Linked DNA regions of Homo sapiens: region 1 is linked to region 2. Evidence: fine-mapped expression QTL. A gene starts in region 2. The other region holds a variant in brackets. All regions are shown on one strand. Distances are between the middles of the regions. Region 1 overlaps TUBGCP6 (tubulin gamma complex component 6). Region 2 holds the start of MAPK12 (mitogen-activated protein kinase 12).

What was found. PIP is the estimated chance that this variant, and not a neighbour inherited with it, causes the effect.
Region 1: its variant is fine-mapped to the expression of MAPK12 in whole blood (TOPMed, PIP above 0.99).

What each region holds. Positions count from the first base shown.
Region 1 is chr22:50,232,064-50,242,694 of GRCh38, reverse strand. It overlaps TUBGCP6 (tubulin gamma complex component 6), which reads left to right. Exons shown (of 25, transcript NM_020461.4): 2 at 2,328-2,491; 3 at 9,169-9,379. Among named protein-coding and RNA genes, the nearest start is that of TUBGCP6, 7.6 kb to the left of the region's middle. RefSeq lists enhancers at 991-1,290, 3,188-3,687, 3,688-4,189. The variant G/T (reference allele first, on the strand shown) is at 5,476.
Region 2 is chr22:50,256,522-50,267,152 of GRCh38, reverse strand. It overlaps MAPK12 (mitogen-activated protein kinase 12), which reads left to right and starts at 5,470. Exons shown (of 12, transcript NM_002969.6): 1 at 5,470-5,768; 2 at 5,857-5,986; 3 at 8,852-8,910; 4 at 9,960-10,071; 5 at 10,189-10,218; 6 at 10,507-10,554. The coding sequence starts at 5,644. MAPK11 (mitogen-activated protein kinase 11) reads left to right here. Exons shown (of 12, transcript NM_002751.7): 6 at 1-26; 7 at 105-219; 8 at 542-613; 9 at 848-927; 10 at 1,493-1,571; 11 at 1,659-1,832; 12 at 2,126-3,440. The coding sequence ends at 2,205. RefSeq lists enhancers at 4,353-5,084, 6,654-7,154, 7,879-8,451 and silencers at 5,132-5,181, 5,192-5,501, 5,532-5,901, 6,052-6,231.

The DNA.
Region 1 (10,631 bases), 24 kb after region 2:
TGCTGTCTGTCGCCTGAGGCTTTACCATGGTACGCTGTAGCTCCTCATTTGAGTTTTGTATTTTATTGCTTTATCAGTGTTGCCAAAAGGATACATTGTTACTAGTCGTTCTATTCTTATGCGATAGCTAGATGATTTAGAAACATACATAATGCTACAGCAAATGTCTTGGTGTACAGCAGTTTTGTTTTTTGTTTTTGAGACAAGTCTTGCTCTGTCGCCCAGGCTGGAGTGCAGTGGTGTGGTCTCGGCTCACTGCAACCTCCATCTCCTGGGTTCAAGCGATTCTCCTGCCTCAGCCTCCTAAGTATCTGGGACTACAGGTGTGCGTCACCACACACAGCTAATTTTTGTATTTTATATGTTTGTATTTTTATTTTTTTATTTTATTTGATTTTTTTTTTTGACACAGTCTCGCTCTGTCGCCCAGGCTCGAGTGCGGTGGCACAATCTTGGCTCACTGCAAGCTCTGCCTCCCAGGTTCACGCCATTCTCCCGCCTCAGCCTCCTGAGTAGCTGGGACTACAGGTGCCTGCCACCACGCCCTGCGAATTTTTTGTATATTTAGTAGAGACGGGGTTTCACCGTGTTAGCCAGGATGGTCTCTATCTCCTCACCTCGTGATCTGCCCGCCTCGGCCTCCCAAAGTGCTGGGATTACAGGCGTGAGCCCGGCCTGATTGTTCTTTTTTTTTTTTTTTTTTTTTTTTTTGAGATGGAGTCTTGTGTAGGGACCAGCCCTACAGGGTCTGTGGGTTTTTCTCTCCATATGCGGAGACCAGAGATGGTAGAAATAAAGACACAAGACAGAGATAGAAGAAAAAACAGCTGGGCCCGGGGGATCACTACCACCAACACGTGGAGACCAGTAGTGGCCCCAAATGCCAGGCTGCGCTGTTATTTATTGGATACAAGGCAAAAGGGGCAGGGTAAGGAGTGTGAGTCATCTCCAATGATAGGTAAGGTCACGTGGGTCACGTGTCAACTGGACAGGGGGCCCTTCCCTGTTTGGCAGCCGAAGCAGAGAGAGAGGAGACAGCTTACACCATTATTTCTGCATTTCAGAGACTTTTAGTACTTTCACTAATTTGCTACTGCTATCTAGAAGGCAGAGCCAGGTGTACAGGATGGAACATGAAAGTGGACTAGGAGTGTGACTGCTGAAGCACAGCATCACAGGGAGACGTTTAGGCCTCTGGATAACTGCGGGTGGGCCTGAGTCATGTCAGGCCCTCCACAAGAGGTGGTGGAGCAGAGTCTTCTCTAACTCCCCCAGGGAAAGGGAGACTCCCTTTCCTGGTCTGCTAAGTAGTGGGTGCTTTTCCTAGGCACTGACGCTACCGCTAGACCAAGGTCCGCTAGGTAATGGGCGTCTTCCCAGGTGCTGCCATTACCACTAGACTAAGGAGCCCTCTAGTGGCCCTGTCTGGGCATGACAGAAGGCTCACACTCTTGTCTTCTGGTCACTTCTCACCTTGCCCCTTCAGCTCCTGTCTCTGTATGGCCTGGTTTCTCGTAAGTTACAATTGTAGAGCGAAGATTATTATAATCTTGGAATAAAGAGCAATTGCTACAAACTAATGATTAATAACGTTCATATATAATCATATTTATGATCTATAGTGTAACTATTCTTGTTCTATATATTTTATTGTACTAGAACAGCTCGTGCCCTCGGTCTCTTGCCTCGGCACCTGGGTGGCTTGCTGCCCACAGTCTTGCTCTGTCGCCCAGACTGGAGTGTGGTGGCGCAATCTCGGCTCACTGCAACCTCCGCTTCCCGGGTTCAAGCAATTCTTCTGCCTCAGCCTCCCGAGTAGCTGGGACCACAGGTGCCCACCACCACGCCTGGCCGATTTTTATATTTTTAGTAGAGACGGGGTTTCACATGCTGGCCAGGCTGGTCTCAAACTCCTGACCTCAGGTGATCCACCTGCCTCAGCCTCCCATAGTGCTGGGATTACAGGCGTGAGCCACTGCGCCTGGCCCCGGTGTACAGTAGTGTTTTAATGTTGAGTGTGATTTTTTTAATTCTGGGTTCCCCACATTGGAATTTCCAGGTCTGAGGCATCTCAAAAAGTTTCACTCTAAGTTCCACTGAGGCTTATGTGTTACATGGAATTGGAAATTGGCAGCCTTGACGACTTATTTTGTTTAATTCCTTAAATGGCTCATTGGTGGGAAACATTGTATGGTACACATGCGCTTGAGAAAAACAGAAGAAACATTTTGTTAGGTCTTTGCATAAAGTTCCTGAAATTCTCATCGCCCTTGGATGAAACGTGGACACAGCAATAAGTGGCGGTTTGCCCTTCCCTGTGTCTCCAGGTCCCACCGAGTGTGGATCAGTGGGAAGACGAAGGATTCCAGTCAGCGTCCAACTTGACTCCTGATTCCCAGTCTGAGCCCAGCGTGACCCCAGACGTGGACCTGTGGGAAGCCGCACTTACCTATGAGGCCAGCAAGCGGAGGTGCTGGGAGCGAGTTGGCTGGTGTGTGCCCTTCTTTGCCTTGGCATGCAGTGCCCCTACCCCTGCATGAGCGTGGCCTTGGATGGGGTGTGTGGGGGGCGTTGTGTACTCAGGGGTCCAGGCAGTTGTGATGGGTTAGTAACCTAAGCTAGTGTCCAAAATTGACTGAGTCCTGGGAGTTAAGAGAGATGCAGAGGGGAAAGCACTAACAGCCTTTAAGGAGGCCTCACCTCCCCATCCAGTAACCAGATCACACCTGTCGGGCAGAACTCCCCTCCCTGTGCCAGTAACCAGATCACACCTGTCGGGCAGAGCTCCCCTCCCCGTGCCAGTAACCAGATCACACCTGCCAGGCAGAGCAGTTGGGGCAGCTAAGTTATGTCCTTAAGAGCAAGAGAGCTGCCTGGCAGGCTGTGTGATTAGTGCCAGGAAGAAATGCTCACTGGGCATGGGGTGCTGATGAAGGAGCCTTTTCCATTCATGTCTAGAGGAATTGGGGTGCTGATGAACACGGAACCTTTTCCGTCCGTGTCTGGAGGAGTTGGGAGGGGCAGTCTGGGTGATGAGAAGCTCCAGCTGCAGCAGCTTTTTCCTGACTGGTACCAGCAGCTTGCTCTCTGGATGCGGTAGCCACTCACTCCCTGGCTCACCTGGGTCCAGAGGCCTCTGCACTCAGCACCTCTCAGAGTCTTTAATGTGGTGGTATCTTTTGATAACTCCCAGAACCCAGGCAGAGAATATGCATTTCGCCTGGGCGCGGTGGCTCACATCTGTAATCCCAGCACTTTGGGAGGCTGAGGCGGGCAGATCACTTGAAGTCAGGATTTTGAGACTGGCCTGGGCAACATGGTGAAACCCCGTCTCTACTAAAAATACAAAAATTAGCTGGGCGTGGTGGTGCTCGCTTATAATCCCAGCTACTCAGGAGGTTGAGGCACAAGAATCACTTGAACCTGGGAGGTGGAGTTTGCAGTGAGCCGAGATTGCACCACTGCACTCCAGCCTGGGTGACAGAGTGAGATTGTCTCAAAAACAAAAAACAAACAAACAAAAAAACACGCACTTCCCCAAATGTTTGGCCATGGAATGCCCCGTTCACATCCAGTCCACTGGTGATCCTGTGGGTATCGGTTTGGGGAGTGTTGGGTGAAAGGGTCAGGGCTGGCTGGGAGCTGAGTGCTCTGGGATGCAGTGGCTGGGCTCTGGCAGCCTGGACAGGAGCATGTGCCCCCGGGTGGGCGAGCTTTCCTGACATCATGAAGATTCCCTCAGGGTTGGCTGTCTCCCTGCTTCCCAGCACGGTGGTGGTGGCTTTATCCTGACTGCCAGGGCCTTCCTGCTGTGTCACTTCCTGCTGGTGCATCAGTCAAAGCAAATCTCATGGTCCTGCTCTCTGCCAATCCCTCACACGTTTAAAAACTGGCCTTTGGGAGGCTGAGGCGGGTGGATCACGAGGTCAGGAGATCGAGACCATCCTGGCTAACACAGTGAAACCCCGTCTCTACTAAAAATACAAAAAATTAGCCAGGCGTGGTGGCGGGTGCCTGTGGTCCCAGCTACTGGGGAGGCTGAGGCAGGAGAATGGCGTGAACCCGGGAGGCGGAGTTTGCAGTGAGCGGATATTGCGCCACTGCACTCCAGCCTGGGTGACAGAGCGAGACTCCGTCTCAAAAAAAAAAACAAAAAAAAAAACTGGCCCTACAAGTTATTGCTTTATTCTGTACATGTCTGCTAATAGTATTTTTTTCTGTTTTTTTTTTGTATTTATTTATTTATTGAGGCGGAGTCTTGTTCTGTTGCCCAGGCTGGAGTGCAGTGGCACCATCTCCAGCTCACTGCAACCTCCGCCTCCCGGGTTCAAGTAATTCTCCCTGTCTCAGCCTCCTGAGTAGCTGGGATTACAGGCACCTGCCACCATGCCCAGCTAATTTTTGTAAAAACTCAGAACCTTCCAACACCAGGTTCCCTTCACCTGGAACATTCTTCAGCTCACCATAATTAGGCAACTCCTTTCATCCTAAACAAACTAGGTCCCCCAAACTCTCCCTCATAAGTCTGTCTGTCTGTCTCTCTCTCTCTCTCTCTCTTTTCTTTTTCTTTCTTTGTCCTTGTTGCCCAGGCTGGAGTGCAATGGCGCAATCTTGGCTCACTGCAACCTCTGCCTCCTGGGTTCAAGCGATTCTCCTGCCTCAGCTTCCCAAGTAGCTGGGATTACAGTGGGATTACAGGCATGGGACACCACGCCTGGCTAATTTTGTGTTTTTAGTAGAGATGGTGTTTCTCCATGTTGGTCAGGCTGGTCTTGAACTCCCACCGTCAGGTGATCCACCCGCCTCGGCCTCCCAAAGTGCTGGGATTACAGGCATGAGCCACCGTGCTGGCTGTATTTCATTTATTAACTCCCCCTTTTCTAGGTTCATTTTTTCGGGTTGCTGATGAGGAGACATGGTCACTCACTCTCCTCATCACCCTGTTCTGAATACGCTGGAGACTGCGGAGCTCCCGCACGGTGGGGCCCGGCGGTGGTTCCTAGGCTGCGGAGCTCCGGCACGGTGGGGCCTGGCGGTGGTTCCTATAGGGAGGTGCTGCTGTGTGCCTGGCAGTGTGCTGAGCACAGCCTGGGCAGCTCCTGTAGGGACTTTCTCTGCCCAGGGCCCTGCAGAGTGAAAGTGCTGTGGTCATCTCAGTGTCCAGTGGCTGACCTGCACAGGGCCACACAGTGGCTGGACCTGAGTTTACGTCTCCTGGGCCCCTCTACTCCCTGATCCCACGGCCCCTGACACTGCAGTCGGGTCAGCCTGATGCTGTGGTTCAAGTTCCTTTGGCAAATCGTTTGGTCTTGTTTCATTTTAAATCCCAGCCACCTGCTAGTTTCCTGCTGTGATGAGCTCTGACCAGCAGGTGGCTAAAGAAACTGCCGCCTAGCCAGAAATTGAGCCTTCTCCACTCTCCAAGACATCAACCCTGCTTTCCCACAGGTCCCAAGACCCCACGGGGGGCCACTC[G/T]CCCCTGCTGTTGCCCACCCTGAGAACCACCATTGTCCGACTGCTCACGGCCCTCCCTGCTGCTGAGCTGCAAGGGCTGGGTTAAGGCGGAGGGAGGCCTTTCAGACCCTGGAATGGTCTCTTTCTCTGCATGTGCCACCCATCTGGGGGAAGCATTTTGCTACATTTTGGGTTGTGTTCTCTCTGGGGACCTGTTGGGGCGGGGGGTGTTCACTCCAGAGCCTGCAGGATCCTGCGCTGTGTCTTTGTGTTTCCGCTGTGGGCTTTTTTTCCCTCAGTTCTGAGTCACCAAGAGGGGTGTGCAGCCATGGCAGTGCTGGGGGCCAGTCCTGGAGGAGATGGGGTGGAAGTGGCTGCAGGGGGAAACAGGGTTGTGCCCACAGCCTGCACCCCTGCCGAGGCCATCTGCAGGAAGAAATGCAGGGGGCAGACAGAGGCTCTGAGAGGCTGTGTCTTTCTCATGCTCATCTCATCCTGAGGGAGCCTGGGCAGGCGTCTGGGGTCCAGAGCGGCCCCACCTGCTGACTGGACATCTCAGGGCTGGTCTCCTTCCTCCTGCCCCCTCCAGCCCACCCTCTTCATAGCAGAGGTGGCCAGTAAAAGTGTGTTTCTTGGAGCTGATTGTTTTCGCAGGGAGGACGGGGGTGTGAGTGTGTGTAGTGCCAGTACATGTGGTTTCACAGCCTCAGCACCAGCAGAAGGCAAATTTCCTCAGAGTTGCATGTGCCCAGGGCTGCCTGTACCAGCCCACCTTACCTGTTACTGTCTTAAAAATTTGTGAACTTAGCCAGGTGCAGTGGCTCACGCCTGTAATCCCAGCACTTTGGGAGGCTGAGGTGGGCGGATCACGAGGTCAAGAGATCGAGACCATCCTGGCTAACACGGTGAAACCCCATCTCTGCTAAAAATACAAAAAATTAGCCAGGCATGGTGGCCCGTGCCTGTAGTCCCAGCTACTCGGGAGGCTGAGGCAGGAGAATGGTGTGAACCCAGCAGGCAGAGGTTGCAATGGGCCAAGATCGTGCCACTGCACTCCAGCCTGGGTGACAGAGCGAGACTCCGTCTCAAAAAAAAAAATTGTGAATTTTTTTTTCTGTATCCATCTCTTACGGTTTTTCTGAGGTGGGGCAGTAAAATTTATATAATGTTTTTACCGTCTTAACCAGTTGTACAGCTTTGTAATGCTGTGTGTATTTTCACTGCTGCACAGCAAGTCTGCAGGAAACTCTGAACCCATTAAACAGCTCCCCATTCACTCCACTTTTTTTTTTTTTTTTTCCGAGATGGAGTCTTGCTCTGTTGCTCAAGCTGGAGTGCAGTGGCACGATCTTGGCTCACTGCAACCTCCACCTCCCGGGTTCAAGCCATTCTCCTGCCTTAGCCTCCTGAGCAGCTGGGATTACAGATGCCCGCCACCACGCCCAGCTAATTTTTGTGTTTTTAGTAGAGTCAGGGTTTCACCATGTTGGCCAGGCTGGTCTTGAACTCCTGACCTCGTGATCTGCCTTTCTTGGCCTCCCAAAGTGTTGGGATTATAGGCATGAGCCACCGCACCTGGCCTCCACTTTCTGTCTCTAGGATTTTGGCCACTGTAGGGACCTCATGTAAGTGGAGTTGCACAGTGTTTTGTGATGGCTCATTTTACTCCACTTGGCGTCCTCGAGCGCCGTCCCTGTGGAGACAGTGTTTTGTGATGGCTCATTGCACTCCACACGGCGTCCTTGAGTGCCGTGCCTTCTGGAGCACGTGTCTGAGCTGCCTTCCTTTTTAAGGCTGAATGATGGGCAGGGGTCTGCACGGACGGTCTGTGTTTATCCTCCTCTGTTGGGGGCTCAGGCTCCTCTCCCCCTGGCTGTTGTGGATGTTGTTGCCGTGGACGGGGGTGTGGATGCTGCTGTGGACAGGCATGTGGATGTTGCCGTGGACAGGCATGTGGATAGGCATGTGGATGTTGCCGTGGACAGGGATGTGGATGCTGCCATGGACAGGAGTGTGGATGATGCTGCCGTGGACAGGGATGTGGATGATGCTGCCGTGAATAGGGGTGTAGATGCTGCCATGGACTGGGGTGTGGATGCTGCCATGGACACGGGTGTGGATGATGCTGCAGTGGATAGGGTTGTGGATGATGTTCCCATGGACAGGGGTGTGGATACTGCTGTGGACAGGGGTGTGGCTGATGCTGCCGTGGACAGGGGGTGGATGCTGCCGTGGATAGGGGTGTGGATGATGCTGCGGTGGACCTGGGTGTGGATGCTGCCATGGACGGGAGTGTGGGCGATGCTGCCGTGGACCTGGGTGTGGATGCTGCTGTGGACAGGGGTGTGGATGATGCTGCCATGGGTGTGTGTGGGTGATGCTGCCAGGGACAGGGGTGTGGGTGATGCTGTCGTGGACAGGGGGTGTGGATGATGCTGCTGTGGACCTGGATGTGGATGCTGCTGTGGACGGGGGTGTGGGTGCTGGTACCATGGGTGGGTGTGGGTGATGCTGCCGTGGACAGGGGGTGTGGATGATGCTGCTGTGGACCTGGGTGTAGATGCTGCTGTGGACGGGGGTGTGGGTGATGCTGCCGTGCACAGGGGGTGTGGATGATGCTGCTGTGGATAGGGGTGTGGATGATGCTGCCGTGGACGGGGGTGTGGGCGATGCTGCCGTGGACCTGGGTGTGGATGATGCTGCTGTGGAACTGGGTGTGGATGCTGCTGTGGACAGGGGTGTGGATGCTGCTGCTGTGGACGGGGGTGTGGGCGATGCTGCTGTGGACCTGGATGTGGATGATGCTGCCGTGGACTTGGGTGTGGATGCTGCTGTGGACAGGGGTGTGGATGATGCTGCCGTGGACCTGGGTGTGGATGCTGCTGTGGACAGGGGTGTGGATGCTGCTGTGGACAGGGGTGTGGATGATGCTGCCATGGGTGGGTGTGGGTGATGCTGCCATGGACAGGGGTGTGGGTGATGCTTCCGTGGACAGAGGGTGTGGATGATGCTGCTGTGGACCTGGGTGTAGATGCTGCTGTGGACGGGCGTGTGGATGATGCTGCCGTGGATGGGTGTGGGTGATGCTGCTGTGGATAGGGGTGTGGATGATGATGCTGTGGACAGGGGGTGTGGATGCTGCCATGGATGGGGTATGGATGATGCTGCCATGGACAGGGGGTGTGGATGATGCTGCAGTGGACCTGGATGTGGATGCTGCTGTGGACAGGGGTGTGGATGATGCTGCCATGAACAGGGATGTGGATGCTGCCATGGACCTGGGTGTGGATGCTGCCATGGACAGGGTGTAGATGCTGTTGTGTACATGGGTGTACAAATCTTGTTTTGTTTCTAACAGAAGAATACTTTATGAGTGAATCACCATCTTGAGGGCCACTGGCGTGGCCTGGGGTGCTCTTCCAGGGCTGGGCCAGTCGGATACCCCCGGCCATGCCCAGGACCCCAGGAAGGTGCCCTGGAACACTTTCCACATGAGTTGTCCTGATAGAATCGATCGTGCTGGTATTCACAGCAGCAGCATCCACAAAAGGCTGGGTGGTGAGCTGACATTCATACCTGGCTATGTTTCTTAGAGTTTATTGTTTTGAATCACTTCCATTCTTCTGTTCATGCCCATTCCCGAGAGAAAGCACCCTGGTGCTGAGGTGCAGGTCACCACGTCTGCTCATGGCCTCTCTTCTGCACCCCTCGCAGCCCCCCTGGCCACAGAGAGGAGCCTTACCTGACGGAGGCGGGAAGGGACGCTTTCGACAAGTTCTGCAGGCTCCACCAAGGGGAGCTCCAGCTGCTTGCTGGGGGCGTCCTACAGGCCCCGCAGCCCGTGCTGGTGAAGGAGTGCGAGCTGGTGAAAGACGTGCTGAACGTCTTGATTGGGGTCGTGTCTGCCACGTTTTCGCTCTGCCAGGTGAGAACTGCTCACTCCCCGCCACAGTGGTGTGGGGCTGGCCTGCCCTCCACCACGCAGTGCCCAGCCCTTTATGGGGCAGAACAAGCCCCAGTGCAGGGAGTGGGGAGTGGCAGGGAAGGCCAGCTCCCAGGGCCACCAGTGATGACAGCCAGCATCATCCCATTTCGGTTCTAAAAAGTGTTAATTTATTAATGTCCTTTTAAAAAACTGCAGAGAAATAACATGTTTATTGCTGTCAGCAAAGCGATAGAAAATGTTCCTCCCCGCATTTCCATTTCCGTCCTGAAGTGCCAGGCGCCTTCCGAGCCTTCCCACCGCTCGGGAGGAGCATCTGCCTGCCGAGAGCGTCCCGAGACTGGGGCCTGCGCTGCTCTTCTCACTGGATGCGGTGTCATCCGGGATGGGGCCGGGCCTTACTGGTTCTGGCACCAGCTGCAGTTTAGCCAGCCCTCTTGCTGGGCACTGGAGAAGTGAATGGATATATTCAGAAAAATGAAGTCTTGCTCTGCAGCTTTTTCATTTAAGTGCTCATCCCCTTCCTTTGTCTTAAATGTTCTTTTATGGTGGCCATTCTTAGACTTCAGAATGGACTAGAAGCACAGCCAGTGACTGCCCCAGAAAAGTGCTCACCAGCAAGCTCCAGCTGCTGCCGGCGCTGAGGGCGCCTGTTCTCAACACCGTGCTCACAGCTCATCTTGTCTGTTGTGGGGATAGCCTTATTGTGTGGAACCAACCCTGACTCTCTTTTTTTTTTTTGAGACAGGGTCTCTCTCTTGCCCAGGCTGGAGTGCAGTGGCACCATCACAGCTCACAGTAGCCTCGACCTCCTGGGCTGAATCTCAATCCTCCCACCTTAGCCTCCATGTAGCTGGGACTACAGGCACGTGCCACCACACTCAGCTCATTTTTTTCTTTTCTTTTTCTTTTTCTTTTTCTTTTTTTTTTTTGAGACAGAGTCTCGCTCTGTTGCCCATTCTGGAGTGTAATGGCACGGTCTCGGCTCACTGCAAACTCTGCCTCCCGGGTTCAAGCAATTCTCCTGCCTCAGCCTCCCGAGTAGCTGGGATTACAGGTGCATGTCACTACGGCTGGCTAATTTTTGTATTTTTAGTAGAGACGGGGTTTCACCATGTTGCTCAGGCTGGTCTCTTGACTCCTGACCTGAGGTGATTTGCCCACCTCAGCCTCCCAAAGTGCTAGGATTACAGGCATGAGCCACCACGCCCGGCCCACCCAGCTAATTTTTAAA
Region 2 (10,631 bases):
CTGTGAACGAGGACTGTGAGCTCAGGGTGAGGCCCGTGGGCAGGGGTGGGCAGGGCGGCGGCGGAGCCCGTGCGGAGCTTGAGAACACCACGTGGTCGCCCCAGATCCTGGATTTTGGGCTGGCGCGCCAGGCGGACGAGGAGATGACCGGCTATGTGGCCACGCGCTGGTACCGGGCACCTGAGATCATGCTCAACTGGATGCATTACAACCAAACAGGTGCAGGGGGAAGGCCTTGGGGGGACGAAGGCCAAGGGCCTCGTCTGGCCCTCGACTGGCTCTGCATGCCAGGTCTTAGGGGGCAGGCAAGGTCCCCAAGAATGTGGGACCCACATTCAAAAGTAGCCCTTCAGAGGCCGCTAGAGCATGATGGGTGCTGGCCTCCTCTGGCTGTGCAGCTATGGACCTCCCCCTGCCTAGGGGGGTTGGGTATGGCAGAGGAGGGGGTCTGCCCATCTTGGGGTCTGGATGTGACTGTGGGTCTCCTGGAGGAGGGACGTGGGGTGGGCACACTGATGGAGGTCCCCTCGCCCTCGCACAGTGGATATCTGGTCCGTGGGCTGCATCATGGCTGAGCTGCTCCAGGGCAAGGCCCTCTTCCCGGGAAGCGACTGTATCCTTGGCCCAGGTTGGGGAGCAGGGTCAAACAGGGCCCCTCCTGTAGGGTAGGGACCAGCGCTGGCCCCTTCTGGCGGGTCTTGCCTCCTCTGCCCCCCATGCTATGCTACTTTGGGCTGGCCATCCTCACCTATAGGAGAGCGGGCTCTGGGCAGCGCCCCAAAGTTTTGGGTCTGGGGGCCCAGGAGGGGTCTGTGGCTGGCCCGTGGGTGTTTCCTGAGTGACACAGACATTGACCAGCTGAAGCGCATCATGGAAGTGGTGGGCACACCCAGCCCTGAGGTTCTGGCAAAAATCTCCTCAGAACACGTGAGTTGGTGCCCGCCAGCCAGCAGCTCCCTCTCCTGGCTGAGCCCCCAGGCTCTCTGGGGGAGAGGGTGGTGTGGAAATGCGGGGACCATATGGGGAACATGGGATGTGGTGGGATAGAGCCTAGGGCAGGTGCCCAATCCCTGCAGGGGAAACAGGAGAAGGGGGAAGACATTCCTGACACCAGGGACAGTGAGTGCAAAGCCATGACCCCAGCAAGCAGTGCCTGGCCAGGGCAGTGGGGGTGGGCTGGGGGCCCAGCAAGCAGTGCCTGGCCAGGGCAGTGGGGGTGGGCTGGGGGACCCCAGCAAGCAGTGCCTGGCCAGGGCAGTGGGGGTGGGCTGGGTGGAGGGAGTGTACTTGGACCCAGCTCCTGCAGGCATTAGGGGCCAACTGAGGAGCTAGAACCACCAGATCCTATATGGAGGGGGTCACTGGTCTGCCTGTGCCCTTGTCCTGGCCTGTTGGAGTGAATGAGTCTGGGGGCTTGCCAAGAGAAGCCCCAGTTTGGGGCCAGGGAGGCAGAGAGTGAGCAGCCTCCCCAGGTGTTCTTGTGTGCCCCCAGGCCCGGACATATATCCAGTCCCTGCCCCCCATGCCCCAGAAGGACCTGAGCAGCATCTTCCGTGGAGCCAACCCCCTGGGTGAGGACTGCCCTGGGCTAGACTGGGCTCCATATCTGGCCCTGGATGTACAGCTGACCCCCCTCCCCACCACTGGCTTCCCTGCAGCCATAGACCTCCTTGGAAGGATGCTGGTGCTGGACAGTGACCAGAGGGTCAGTGCAGCTGAGGCACTGGCCCACGCCTACTTCAGCCAGTACCACGACCCCGAGGATGAGCCAGAGGCCGAGCCATATGATGAGAGCGTTGAGGCCAAGGAGCGCACGCTGGAGGAGTGGAAGGGTGAGCATGGCAGTGGCTGGGGGTGGGTCCAGGGGCCTGCGGGCTCCATTTCCCCAGAGGCAGGAAATGCCCCAGTTCCTCTCCAGACTGGTCAGGTGTGGAAGGGCGTTCAGGTGTCCAGCACAGGCTGGGAGCGGGGCGGAGGAGTGACACAGGGCAGGTTCTGGCTCCCAGACTGTGCTGAGGCTGCTGTCACAGGGTGGTGGGCCTGGGCTGGGTGGCAGGTGCCAGACAAGCAGGTGAGGGGCCGGGCTGTGGGAGGCACAAGCTCACCCTTTCCCTTCACCTCCTAGAGCTCACTTACCAGGAAGTCCTCAGCTTCAAGCCCCCAGAGCCACCGAAGCCACCTGGCAGCCTGGAGATTGAGCAGTGAGGTGCTGCCCAGCAGCCCCTGAGAGCCTGTGGAGGGGCTTGGGCCTGCACCCTTCCACAGCTGGCCTGGTTTCCTCGAGAGGCACCTCCCACACTCCTATGGTCACAGACTTCTGGCCTAGGACCCCTCGCCTTCAGGAGAATCTACACGCATGTATGCATGCACAAACATGTGTGTACATGTGCTTGCCATGTGTAGGAGTCTGGGCACAAGTGTCCCTGGGCCTACCTTGGTCCTCCTGTCCTCTTCTGGCTACTGCACTCTCCACTGGGACCTGACTGTGGGGTCCTAGATGCCAAAGGGGTTCCCCTGCGGAGTTCCCCTGTCTGTCCCAGGCCGACCCAAGGGAGTGTCAGCCTTGGGCTCTCTTCTGTCCCAGGGCTTTCTGGAGGACGCGCTGGGGCCGGGACCCCGGGAGACTCAAAGGGAGAGGTCTCAGTGGTTAGAGCTGCTCAGCCTGGAGGTAGGGGGCTGTCTTGGTCACTGCTGAGACCCACAGGTCTAAGAGGAGAGGCAGAGCCAGTGTGCCACCAGGCTGGGCAGGGACAACCACCAGGTGTCAAATGAGAAAAGCTGCCTGGAGTCTTGTGTTCACCCGTGGGTGTGTGTGGGCACGTGTGGATGAGCGTGCACTCCCCGTGTTCATATGTCAGGGCACATGTGATGTGGTGCGTGTGAATCTGTGGGCGCCCAAGGCCAGCAGCCATATCTGGCAAGAAGCTGGAGCCGGGGTGGGTGTGCTGTTGCCTTCCCTCTCCTCGGTTCCTGATGCCTTGAGGGGTGTTTCAGACTGGCGGCTCCAGTGGGCCAAAGGGCAACCACATGAGCATGGGCAGGGGCTTTCTCCTTGGATGTGGGACCCACAGCAGCTTCCTGAGGCTGGGGGTGGGTGGGTGGGTGGTTTGGCCTTGAGGACGCTAGGGCAGGCAGCACACCTGGATGTGGACTTGGACTCGGACACTTCTGCCCTGCACCCTGGCCCGCTCTCTACCTCTGCCCACCGTTGTGGCCCTGCAGCCGGAGATCTGAGGTGCTCTGGTCTGTGGGTCAGTCCTCTTTCCTTGTCCCAGGATGGAGCTGATCCAGTAACCTCGGAGACGGGACCCTGCCCAGAGCTGAGTTGGGGGTGTGGCTCTGCCCTGGAAAGGGGGTGACCTCTTGCCTCGAGGGGCCCAGGGAAGCCTGGGTGTCAAGTGCCTGCACCAGGGGTGCACAATAAAGGGGGTTCTCTCTCACTTGGCTTGTATCCAAAGGCTACTCCAGGCCCGGGTGCCCCCACCATCCCTGCTGCTGGGCGTGGGGGGAGTGTCTGGGTCATCCTGCATCACTCACCTCCAGCTGGCCAGATCCCTCAGGCCCCCAGTCAGACCAGCGGCCATCTTCTGGCACCCTCCCTGCTCCCTGGAGGGTCTGAGAGCCCAGGGGGACCAGGGGAAGACATGGCTGATGGGCAGACTTTGAGGGCACAGGGTGTGACAGCCACCCAGATGGTGACCCCAGCTGCCCTGTGGGGATGTACTGGGCAGGCTTGGCTTTGGGCCAAGATCCAGACACCACCCCCGCCTACCCCTCAGTGTTCAGGGAAGCTGGCTGGGGAGAAGTTGGGTGTCTCAAGGAGCAAGGGTCTGCCCATCCCTGGGTGGGGGCTGGGCAGGGTAGGGAAAATAGCTTTCCTTTCCCTCCTGGTGAAGGAAAAAGAGGCCACTTTAACCCAGGGAATGTGCACGCTGGTCCCGTTCCCACTACGCGCTGCAGCTTATGTGTGGGGGAGGGTCCAGGCCATTTGGGGTCAGGCAGTGTCTCTAAGGACCAGGGACAGTCTGTGCCCTTGCTTGGGTCTTGGGTAGGGGTGGAAACCGTCTGGGAGTTGGGGGCCTCCTGGGGCCTGGTCAGTGTAGTGGTCAATCCCGGGGGAAGTCCAGTGTTGGCGGTTGGGGGTGGGAGGAGAATGGTGACACAGCCCCACCTCAGAAGCCTGGTCCGTGCAGGGCCTGCTGGACCCCTGAGCCCCACCACGGGGAGTAAGGGGGACAGCGTGGAAGCTGGGCTTCCTGGAAGAGGTGGATGGAGTGCCACAGGCAGCCCAGGGCACAAAGGGTATGGGCCACAGGCAGCTGTGGTTTGGGTGGCCCTGGGCTGCCCCGCTCACTGGTCACGAGCTGGTGAATGCCGTGGAGCACGGCCCAAGCCCAGGTGTAAAGCTACTACCACCCTTGAGCGGCTGAGCTGCTGATTCATGGCAGGAGGGCGGGGCAGAAGGCCCTAGGGATCCTGTTACCCACCAGCCCAGTGGGCTCCTGGGGTGCCCCAACATCCCTTCTGAGATCCAGGTTCCTGGGCTGGTGAAGGGGTGTCAGGGTGGGGCTTTGCCCTCAGGAGCATCTGGTCCAGGATGGGGCCAGACCTATGGGAGGACAATGCCCACACAGAGGGGTCAGGCGGAGGGCCCCAGCAGGTCCCCATCCCTGCTGGAGAGAGTGCAGCCACTCTCAGCCTGGGTTTTGCAGGACAGGACAGGCAGGGGTGGGATGGGCAGAGACACCAGTACTTGCAATGCTTGGAGCAGGCACCCCACAGATGGGGGGAGCAGGGGGAGGAGCTGGGGGTCCAAAAGGGCCCACGGGGACCTATGGGACTGAGAGGCCCGGGGTCAGTGGCCACAGGAGTGGGGTTGGGGATGCAGCCTGAGGAGTTTGGGGGACAGACCCCTCCGTGTAGAAAGAGGGATACAGGCAGGACAGGTGCAGATGGACCCCTTGTTGGGGGACGGATGGATCAGGCTCAGTGGTAGGGCATCCTTGGGGGTGGCCTGCGAAGTTGACCCCGGGAACACAGGGCTCAGCCCGACTTGCGGCTGCCATAGAAGTCAGCGCTCAGGCTGTCAAGGATGGGCCCTGCGCCCTGGAGCCGTGGGGAGTTAGGACTGGAGCGGGCGGGGGGGGGGGGGGGGGGCTCCTGCTGAGACCCCCCCAGGGCGGGGAAGTTCAGCCAAAGGGGAGAGGCTGGCAGAGGTATCTCCGCGCCGCGTCCGGCCCTTTATGGGGACGAAGCTGCGGGGCGGCGCTCCCCTCCCCCTGCGCTTCCCCCCAGGCTCCGGCCCTCCCCAGGCTCCGGCCCTCCCCCGGCGGCGGCCGCCTCGGGTTTCCGGAGGGGCCGGAGGGCGGGCGAGGGCGTCACGTGCGCGCCGCCCGCGGGCCGGTTGGTCCCCGGGCGGGGGAGGGGCCGTGCGCAGCCTGGGTCGGGGTCGGGCCGGGGTCGGCACCTGGGACATCCCTGAGGGAAGGGCCGGGAGCGGGAGCGCCCCAGCGGCCGGCGGGCGGGCGGGCGAGCGGACGAGCGGCGCGGAGCCGGCCCGAGGCGCGCGCCGAGGGAGCCCCGTCCCCGGTCGTGGGGGCACCGCCCGCAGGCTCTGCGGGGTGGGCAGCTCCCGGGCCTGCCATGAGCTCTCCGCCGCCCGCCCGCAGTGGCTTTTACCGCCAGGAGGTGACCAAGACGGCCTGGGAGGTGCGCGCCGTGTACCGGGACCTGCAGCCCGTGGGCTCGGGCGCCTACGGCGCGGTGTGGTGAGCGCGGGCCGGGCGGGGCGGCCGGCGGGGCGGGCGGGGCCTGCGCGGGGTGCCCGGCCTTCCCGCTAAGCGGTCCGCCCCGCAGCTCGGCCGTGGACGGCCGCACCGGCGCTAAGGTGGCCATCAAGAAGCTGTATCGGCCTTTCCAGTCCGAGCTGTTCGCCAAGCGCGCCTACCGCGAGCTGCGCCTGCTCAAGCACATGCGCCACGAGAACGTGAGTCGCGCGGCCCCGCTCCGGGAAGGCGCCGCGGCCTCGGCTTGGTTCAGCTGGGCTGGGTTCCCCCACCCGGCAACCCCTCCTCCAGGCAGCCTGCTGTGGGGCCGGGCGGGGGTCGGGCCGTGGGTCCCCAGGGGAGAAGGAGAGCAAGGCCTGTCTCTCCTTGGGAGACGACTCCCCCAAGGGCCGTTCCCCATCCTCCGCCAGCCCCGGGAAGGACTCAGCCCCTTGACTCGGCGCCTCAGCCAGGCCCTGGTCAGGGAACACGACTTGGCCAGGCCCAGGGGATCCTCCAGGTCTCACGCCAAGCCTTGCCCCCAGCCAGGAAGCCCGCGGTGAGAGCATGCTCCCGGCGGGAGGATTTTCCTGGAAGGGGCACCTTCCCTCTTCCCCATCCCCTTTCCAGCCCCTCTGTGGAGCCCACTCTGCTGCTGTCCATCTCCCGAGTCTTCCGACCCGGTGGTGGAGGGGGAGGAGGGGGGCGCCAGAACGCAGGGAGTGTGTTGAACCCTCAGGAGCCCCTGGGGGTGAAGGGTTTAGGGAGCTGCTGTTTGAGGAGCACTGGGCGTGGTGGCCGCCTCACAGACACCCTCCTGTGCGTTGTGGGGGCCCATCCTTTCCAGTCCTTCCAGTGAGATGCCACGTACAGCTGCCCTGGGCCTCTCCCATGGCGGTGGCTGGCTGCTAAGAACCCGATCTCTCTGCCAGGGGTGCTCTGGTTTCTGGATACAGTCCCACTTGTCCACTGCCCCCCACGTCACTCCTGCCCTCCCCCTGGTCTGGGCCCAGCCTGAGGGCTGGTGGTCTGGGCACCCGGACCCTACCTACAGGGTGAGATGCTCTGGACCCTCCTGGGTCATCTGAGCCACCGGTGCCTTGGGAGAACGAGTCCCTGCGTCCACCAGCAAAGTGCCCCGTCCACCAGCAAAGTGCCCCGTCCCCCGGTTCCTGGCCACCGCTACTCCCTCAGCCCCTTGGATGGGTCTTTTTCTCTGAGGCTTCCCATGCCCACCCTGACCCCCAGCTCACTACCCTGGGCCCTGTGAAATCCATTTGCAGTGGACACCAGCCCTGCCCGCACCTCGACACCCCGTCACACCCAGCCCTGCCCCCACTTCGCCGGCACCGCACCCCCCCACCACCCGCCCATCACACCAAGGCCTTGCCCCAGGACTGCAGCCTTCCCCACGGCCCCCTGCTCCCACCCACCCACTCACCCACCCGTGCCTTGCCCCATCCAGCCAAGCGCTCTGGGGCTTTTTTTCTTTTTTTTTCTTTTGAGACCGAGTTTCGCTCTTGTTGCCCAGGCTGGAGTGCAATGGCACGATCTCAGCTCACTGCAACCTTCGCGTCCTGGGTTCAGGCGATTCTCCTGCTTCAGCCTCCTCAGTAGCTGGGATTACAGGCGCGCGCCACCACGCCTGGCTAATTTTTTGTATTTTTAGTTGAGATGAGGTTTCACTATGTTGGGCAGACTGGTCTCGAACCCCTGACCTCAAGTGATCTGCTCGCCTCGGCTTCCCAAAGTGCTGGGGTTACAGGCGTGAGCCACCGCGCCGGGCTCCACCGGGGCTTTTCTTTAGCCACCGCCCCGCTGTGCTGGGATCTCCGCTGTGCCTGTGGGCCCACCCCCTGGGCTCCTGGCCTGCAGCTGAGGCTCTTTCCCTGGAACCCCATCTTCCTGGGAGACTGAAGCTCTGTGAGGCCACGTGCCTTGCTCAGCGGGGGAGGAGGCTCTGCCACAGGCCTCAGTCCTGCCAGGCCGCCTCCCTCTCCAGGCCAGCCCCCATACCACAGAGGCCAGGCCAAGTCCTGTGGCCCCTAGCCCACAGGACCCTGCTCTCCGTCTTCTGCTAAAGCACTCTCCCGGGCACCCTCCAGCTCTCATGTCCACAGTCCCCGCTGCCCCCTGGACACCCCCTCTGTTCCCTCTCCTCCTCCCTCCACATTCTTGCCCATGGCTCTGGCCCACGTGGCTCCGGCGGAGCTGTCCTTCCAGCTTGTGTCCATTCTTACCTCACTCTGGCCGGTTCCTACACCACGGCCAGGAGGACGCATTTAGCCTCACGTCCCCATTTAAATCGTCCCCGTCTCTTGGGATCAAAGCCAAACTTCCACCTGGTGTGTGCTGCCCTGCCGGCTCCCTCTGGCCTCTCCTCAGCCCCTCCCTGGCCTGGGCCTCCGCCACCTGGCCTCCCTCCCTGTATTCTTCAAACTATCCAAGTGTGCTCCCTCCTGCCTCGGCCACTCTGTGTGTGCCCTCTGCCAGGTGTCCCGCAGCCCACATGTCTACCTGCCCCTCCACCCTTGGCTGTGCAAAACTCCAGGCCTCCCTGGGACCGTCACCCCAAAATGCTGAGGCGGCAGTTGTCACATGACCTGTCTACTGTCTATCTCCCCAACCAGGGGTGCTGAGGGGACCAGGTCTGGTGGGTCACGGTGCTGTCCGCCTGGGCCTCACCAGCAGAGGCCTGGCCTCTTTCCATAGCGCTGTCCCCACCCTGGGCCTGGATCTGTTTGGTTGGGGTGAAGAGGGGTGAAAGGGTCAGGCGGCAGGAGCCCTTTGGATGGTTCGGAGCCATCCCAGACTCCGGGTTGCCCCTCCCCCAGAAGATCCCGGTTGTCACCGTCCAAAAATAACCTTTCTGTGGGTATGTGTGCCAGGGCTGGGCCACACTGCCAGTGGGTATGTGTGCCAGGGCTGGGCCACACTGCCAGTGGGCAGAGCCAGGCCCTTTGGACAGTGGGGCATGACAATGACAGCTGCAGAGGGGGTTTCCTGCCCAGAGGGTTGTGCCACTCTTGGGGGGTGCCCCAGCCCGTGTCCTCTGCTGCATTCTCAACCCTATGTGGCCCCCCCAGGTGATCGGGCTGCTGGACGTATTCACTCCTGATGAGACCCTGGATGACTTCACGGACTTGTGAGTGCCGACCTGGGCTGGCCGCTGGGCACGAGGGGTGTTGGGCAGCTCTGGGCACTGGCTTCAGGTTCTAGGTTGGCAATGGGGTTCTCTTCCTGCAGCCTGAGTGGGGGATGCACACCGCCCACCCCCTCCCCATACCACTGTCCACCCCACGCCCTCCCCCACATGGTCCTGGGACCCACGGGCACTGGCACAGCTGGGCAGAGCTGGGGCTGCTGCCTCTCTCCACGCCTGGCACCTGGGCCCTCTCCAGCACCGGAGGTGTGAACCTTGGACCTGACCATTTGTTAACAGGAAGGTCCCGTGCTCGGGACCCTGGCACCAAGTGTGTGGCCGGTAACTGGAGCTGCTGACCTTTTCCAGCGGGTGGGGGAGAAGCGGTAGGGAGGACCCACCCTGCCCCTGCCCTGCAGCCGACCACCCTGGGACTCACACCCTGTCGGCCAAGAGTGAAGGGCCAGGCCGAGGAAGGCCTGGAGAGGGTAGCAGGCGCCTCCCGCCTGACTTGCAGAGGTCAAGTCAGTGGCCTCTGGGAAGGTGCTAAATACCATTCTCCTGTGTCTGTCTCCACCGGCCCAGCCGACCCCTCTGACCCAGATGCCTTGCCGCGCCCCCATCGCCCCCAGGCACCTCCCTCATTTCTGGCACAAAGTTGTGAAGTTGAAACCTGACTGCCTCCCTCCCCTGCCTGTGAAGACTCGAGTCCTGCTGCCTCTACCATGGAGCCTCAGCCCCTAGCCTGGCACGCAGGGCGCTTCAGCGGAGGGTTCAAAAACCCCAAGGCAGCCTCCTCCCTGCCTGACAGTCCTCAGGGTGGGAGGGGGGTGTGAGCGCTGCTGGCAGTAACAGTTGCGGGAGGATGGAGCCTGGCACTGCAAGGTGGGGCTGCGAGGACACCGAGGCCAGTGTGGATGTGTGCTGCAGGGGTGACCTTCCTGGGGGTGCCTGTTGGATCCGGGACGGGTCTGAGCCTGGGCCTGCTGGGTGGGTCTCTGGGATGCAGAGGCTGGCTCTGTCCGCTGACAGCGCTCCGGCCCCTCCCACAGTTACCTGGTGATGCCGTTCATGGGCACCGACCTGGGCAAGCTCATGAAACATGAGAAGCTAGGCGAGGACCGGATCCAGTTCCTCGTGTACCAGATGCTGAAGGGGCTGAGGGTACGGGCCCCGGGGGAGGCTGCAGGGAGGCAGGCAGGGCCTCGGGGCTGGGCAGAGGAGGGCCCTGTGGCTCTGAGAGGGTGCGCTGAAGCCTGCCAAATCCTCTGCCCCCCGCAGTATATCCACGCTGCCGGCATCATCCACAGAGTGAGTCCCGGTGGAGAAGCCGCTCATCAGCCCTCCCCCAGTGCAATCCCCCCGCCTCCACGTCCCACCTGTGAGGATGTGATGGGGTCTGGGTGCTGAGCCACGCCCTATGCACAGCCCCTGGTGGGAACCTGCCTGGGTGCCCAGGTACCTTGGTCTGCCCTTGAAGGGCTGCAGAGAGCAAGGGGGCCAGGTCCGGTGGCCCCATCTTTAGGTGCCACCCAGGCTCTTGGCTGTGCCCATGCTTGGGAGGGTGGGGCACAGTGGCCACCTTTCCTCTGCCCCCAGGACCTGAAGCCCGGCAACCTGGCTGTGAACGAAGACTGTGAGCTGAAGGTGTGTGCTGCCTGGCAGGGGGCCCTGAGGTGGGGCAGGGGCCCCCTCTGGATCTGCCCATCTATCCACCTGTCAGG